Linked DNA regions of Homo sapiens: region 2 is linked to region 1. Evidence: fine-mapped expression QTL. A gene starts in region 1. The other region holds a variant in brackets. All regions are shown on one strand. Distances are from middle to middle. Region 1 holds the start of CLEC4A (C-type lectin domain family 4 member A). Region 2 holds the start of ZNF705A (zinc finger protein 705A).

The links.
Region 2: its variant is fine-mapped to the expression of CLEC4A in whole blood (TOPMed, PIP 0.99).

Annotation. Positions count from the first base shown.
Region 1 is chr12:8,122,077-8,124,994 of GRCh38, reverse strand. CLEC4A (C-type lectin domain family 4 member A) reads right to left here and starts at 1,378. Exons shown (of 6, transcript NM_016184.4): 1 at 1,035-1,378. The coding sequence starts at 1,116. RefSeq lists an enhancer at 1,459-1,508.
Region 2 is chr12:8,154,956-8,157,873 of GRCh38, reverse strand. It overlaps ZNF705A (zinc finger protein 705A), which reads right to left and starts at 859. Exons shown (of 6, transcript NM_001004328.3): 1 at 782-859. The variant T/C (reference allele first, on the strand shown) is at 1,235.

The DNA of each region.
Region 1 (2,918 bases):
ACTTTCTTCGAGTTATGATATTTTGTCAAATGATGGGGGAAAAAAATTCAGTATTATATAATATGATTACATTTTTAGTAAAATACATATGCACATTATATGTATTTGTATGTGGAAGGATATTCACTAAATTGCAAATTATGATTTTCTCTAGATGATAAGAGTAATTATAATTCAAATATCTGTGTACCTCTGGTTAATTTTTTCTACAATGAACATTAATACTTGTGTAATAAAGAAATTATATAAAGTTTTTAAGGAGAAAAAATTTCCCTAAGTGCTCTCCACACCTTCACAGAGGTATTTTAGAAAGCGTAACTATAGTCCTGACCCCTTCCCCCATAGTTTCTTGTACTCTATATACATTCTTTTCTCTCTTTTGCTCTATACTTGAGATATCACACATGACACCCAAATCACCTTGCATCTACTCCCAAACGTAACAGAGTCTGTCTCAGAGATGCAACACGCAATAGGTTCTCTGATTTCAGAAAAAGTTTCCTGGAGATTTAAGAGACTTTCTTTGTAGACTTTCTAGTCTTTCATTTGCAAAGGCCTTTTGTTACATTTCCATCCATTACCAACAAATATACCCTCACCACTGTCCACCCAAACTCTTTCCCTCTAACTGATCAAAAAACAAATCTCACAAATTCATCAGGACCCCCTGCATCTGGATTGATGGTTTCAGAAGCTGTACTCAATCTCTTAACCCCAGCCCCACTCAGCCTCAGAAAACACAGGGGCATCAGAGCACTCGCCTTAGCTCAGAACTGGAGTGGATTTCTCTCACCTCTGTTTCAGTAAGCAGAGTGGAGGCTGAAGAGAGTGGCACAAAATCTTTTCTTCTCCACAATACAAATGTACACCCCGTAATGCGTATCTGCAGGCCACTCAATCTTCTGGGACTCTTGTGTTTCCCAGACATACTCAATCAGACAACCAGCAACTGAAAACACCTATGCCTTATTCATAAACCCTCTCCTCATCCTTCACCTCGTCATTCACTCTGACCCCTAGAAAATGATCTTTACCTGCAGAAGAGGCTGTGTTGATGCCTGAGGACTTGAATTCATTTTTGAACCTCACTTCAGCATAAGTGATTTCCGAAGTCATAATGGGAAGAGAGCTTCTGCTTTCTTCAGAAAATCTGTTTCAGATCTTTCTTAAAACATCTTATAAACAGGAACCAAACATGGTGGTAAATTACCTCCTTCCTTTCACTCAACTAGTGGAGAGCAGAGGCACCAGATAGGCACATATCCTCAAGAGGGGTCTCATGAGAACTAAGAACCACAATAAAAACTAAAAACCGCAGTTCACAGAAGCCCTTTCCTCAGGACCAGTATAGTGAGAATCACAGCCTTGAAACAAATGCAAGCAAATGCAATAAAAGTGGGAACTCAAAGGGTTGCGGAAAGAGGAAGAAAAATAAAAGAAGAACCAAGCACTTAGAGTCTTTCTGGAGAACTGCGTTTTTCACCAGTAAAAAATACAATTTCTGTGCTTCCACACACAAATGTAATTACTTTTGACCAAACATCCTGAACATAGACTTATGTTGCATTCATCTCATCAATTTTGACTGATCAGGCAACTTGTTAGTACCACATTCTAAGAGTATCATTGACACAAAACTCACATATCAGCCTCCCCACCTTCACGAATTAGTTTCCTGTAGCATGGTGGGGATGGCAAAGTTTAAACCCCATGTCTTCTGAAGCTGTTCCTCCATGCTCTCTGTGTTTCCTTGTTGGTAACTAACTCTATCAAAAGTCTGCATTCATCTTGCTAGAATCTCCAGAAAGCAGCTCCCTTTACTGGATGTTGGAGGAGAGGGAAGGCCAGCCTTTATTCCATGCTTCCCTAACCTTTTAATCGCCACATCACCTCCAATATATATGACTATTTTTTAACAGTTAGGAGAATTATATAGAATCACAGTATAGAAGGGGATAAACTTAAACAAAGTACTAAATATGACTTTTTCCAAAGGCCTAGAAGAAAACACTCCAAATATTAAATCCTTCATGTGGAATCTCTCCATAGACATGCTCCCAGCTCACACCTGGATTCTCTGCCCTCAACTCTCCGCAAATGATCCTCCTTTTAATCTCCCCCAGCTGATTCCTTCTCCTGCATAACACACATGCATACATGCATGCACACACACACAAACACACACGTCTATATTTCTATATTATTTCTATATCTAAATATATTGAACACCATGAGTTCACACTAATTCCTCTAATTCCAATCTAACACCACAAGTTTCATTCTAGTTTTCTCCCTTCCCACATTCCTAACTCCTTTCTGTGACACTAAGAAACCTGCTTTCATTGTCTTTCACTTATTCCTTATTTGATCAATCTCCTGGATGTCGTCAATCTCCCACCTGCTAAGATGTCCCTCTCTTCCTAGTTGGGCTCTGACTCCCCAGTCCAAGCCACCATCCCCTGCGCGGATGCCCTCCCTCCTCACTCTGAGAGTGCCGGCAAAGGGCCAGCCCACTCCCCACCCCCATGAACATCCCCCAACAAACATCCCCCTCACCCTGCCAAGGCTCTGACTCCCTGTGCTAGGCCATTCCTCTGCAGGAAAGCCCTCCTCACTCTGCTTGCACTCTGATTCCTGATGCTGGTCCCCTAGTCACCACTTAGACCCCCTTAGGTTCTAATGCTCCACACAAGGTCACCCTATGGGTGGAAGCCCTCCTCACCCTGGAGGGGTCTGATTTCCTCACCGGGCTATCCTACCACATGGACCACCTCCTTATCCTGCTAAGTTTCTGAAACCCACACCAAGTCCTCCCTCTGCATAGAAGCTTTCTTCATCCTGCTTGGGCTCTGACACTCCATGCAGGTCCTCCATCCCCCAGCAATAATGTCCATCTTACCCTACTTAGGATCTGAGTT
Region 2 (2,918 bases), 33 kb before region 1:
TTTGGGTCTGTTCTTCCTGGCTTCTGCCCTCACTTTGGCTCAAGAAAACTCTAATTATAATTTGTGTCTCAGCCCCTTCCTTTTAGGTCAACATTTCACAGTTTACAAGTATAAAAACTTGTCAAACTCATTGAAATGTTTACTTAAATGGATATATTTTGTGGTATACAAATTTTACTTCAACTGATTCAAAAAGAAGGCAATGAGCATGATAGAAACCATTTTCTCTTCTCCCTATACTCCTTCAATTCACCCAGAAGGAATTTCCATTAACAAGTCCAACATGTTTCCTATTTCTTCATTTCTCACAATATCCAAAACACTTTATATAGGGTCAAATGTTCTCATTATTTCCACTGGAGAGAATTAATTAATCAAAGGCCAGTATTCAAGTGTTGCTTTTCTCAAGGAAGTGAGAGGAAGGACTTCTTTTTTCCCCCTCAGGCAGCCTATACAATTCTCCCAAAAAGGGTTTCTATTTTAGACTTGGGTTTGGGCATAGTAGGAAATGCTTTTTGGCTTTAAATCCAATTCACATGTTTCAGTACAGCTTTACCAGTAATAAAGTGAGTGTTTAGATTGCTTCCTGATTCTTTTGCCTATTTCATAATTTACTTAGAATTCAGACTACAGTGTCATTTCAGCCTATTAAGTTTGAAATGCTTATTTAGGGTCTCCAGTTGAAGCAGCAGGACTTACATGGAATTCATAACAGAGAACAAGCTGAATAGGAATGTGGACATTAGAACAGGAAGTCTGATTACTCATGGCAAAGTTATACCTTTAAGCGGAATTGCATTTCAAAGTAGATCAGGAAAAACCCCTTGCAATTTTCCATTATGCAGATTTTTGACGAGTCACTGGAAAAGAGGAAGGTGGATTAGTTCCCTTAGACTTCATTATGTCTGTCAAGCTAAAGAGTTTCATGTTCTTAAAATCCTTCAGAACACAACCCTCTCACAGAGCAGCTTAACCGTAATGTCACCCTTATTCTCTCTCATGTGTTTTAAGATTAAAACTGGCATCATGATTCTGACTCAATGTCAATTCTCTCCAATCCTCCTGAATATACTCACTCTTCTACATATCCAATCCAAGAAAGAAAACTTTCCTATCTCAGAGCTTGCTTATATTTATTTTATCTGTTTATAGATTTACATATCTTTTCAATGTCCATCATATTAAAATGGAAAAGCTACAGTTCAGAGCAGGAACTCTGTTACATGCCTCATTG[T/C]TCCCCTAATACCAGGAAAATACTAATTACCCAATAAAAATTTGTTGACTCACTGGCTGCCTGTGTCTCTGTATTTTATTTCTGAAGAAAACTCATGGGCCTTTTTAGAGTTTCTGAAGTTTTCTGACTGCTATTACCTATTTTTTTAAAATAAGGAGTAATTTTTAACTAAACGAGGGAAGGTTTTAATGTTTTGATATATCTTAAACATCTCGCAATAAAAACTATCTTTATGTTTTTGGCGAGAACATGCACTGATATCTTTGTTTTCCACTTCATCTCTTTACTCCTTTAGTTCATTTTTTTGTGATTTGTGAAGACTCAACCCAATTTAATTACTATTCATTTTTCTTAGTCTATCTACTTCCCCTTGATTACTGATTTATTCTTAAACTCAATTCTCTCTAGCACTTGATCTTGAAAAATGAAATTGGAACTAACTTGGGTGACAATTCTGTTTCTTTCTAATATCCTAAAGTCTGTGATATTCTTTTTTTAACATCCAAAAAATTTTTTTATTTATCTAAATCGTCATGTTTCCAATTTACATAAGATAGCACCTTAGGTTACTCTCCCACAGACTCTTATTATATGTTTTTTATCACCATATCAGAAAGTAGACCTATTTTTTAAATCAGAAAAATAATAAAGCAGAGAAATGGGAGATCTTTAAAGCCTGTCACAATAGCAAACCTTAGATATTAATTTGGTGGTGCAGGAAACAAAAGATATATCTCACTGCCATATTCCTTGATGAAATTATTCTTTGAACACATTTTTCTCTAAAAGTATAAAAAACTCTCACATTAAGATTAAAGACACTAGTCTAGATATTATAATTATGGAAGATGCTAATTACTTTGAGTATGACTTTTTGATCCATTTAAGCACTGGCAACCCTAGAACTGGTAGTAGCAATTTGTTTGGTGAGTACCACATGCATGGATGAGTTCAGAACCAAAATTGGGAAAATACAGCTAGACTCAGGCAAATAAACTAAAAATGAGAGCCAATTATCAAAAAGCATATTTTAGTACTTTTAAGGTCAAAGAAGAAAAATAATCAAGTCTATAATACATATTTGAAATCTGTTTTTTTTTAAAGGTAGAAAAATTAGAGATTGGCATGTTAAGAAAAAGAGAAATATTTTGAGGGACATTTGTTTAAAAAGCTATATCATAAGTGATGAAAAGATAGTTCCATTTCAAGTAAGAATTTACAAAGTCAACTACAATGAAACAGCCACTGAGAAGTTGGGTGGAAACCACAGGGATACTCTCTGAGGCTTCTCTTGGGTCTACAAGCTCCTTCTATCAAATATGCAAGACCAAAAGCAGAGGTTTATACTTTTCTCAGTCAAAAGGCTTGGGAGACCAGTTACTTAGGAGTCTGGAGTATAGAAAATGATGACTAATAACCTAAGATTAATAATACTGGGGAAAATTTAAGCTAGAAGAATCCTAGAAACATCCTGTAATCAAATGGCCAAATACAAACTTAGGCAATACAAAGCAGTCTCAGCTTACTATTATCTTTTTCCTTCAAGAGCATCCTCCCTTTGATACCCTAACTTTCCCCAATTTTTACTATTTTCTTCAATTTTTCCACTCCCAAATTTGTTAGTTTTTCTTCTCCTCTCAGTTGCCCTTAAGTGTGACTTATTTTCCTAATTTCATCATTTTCT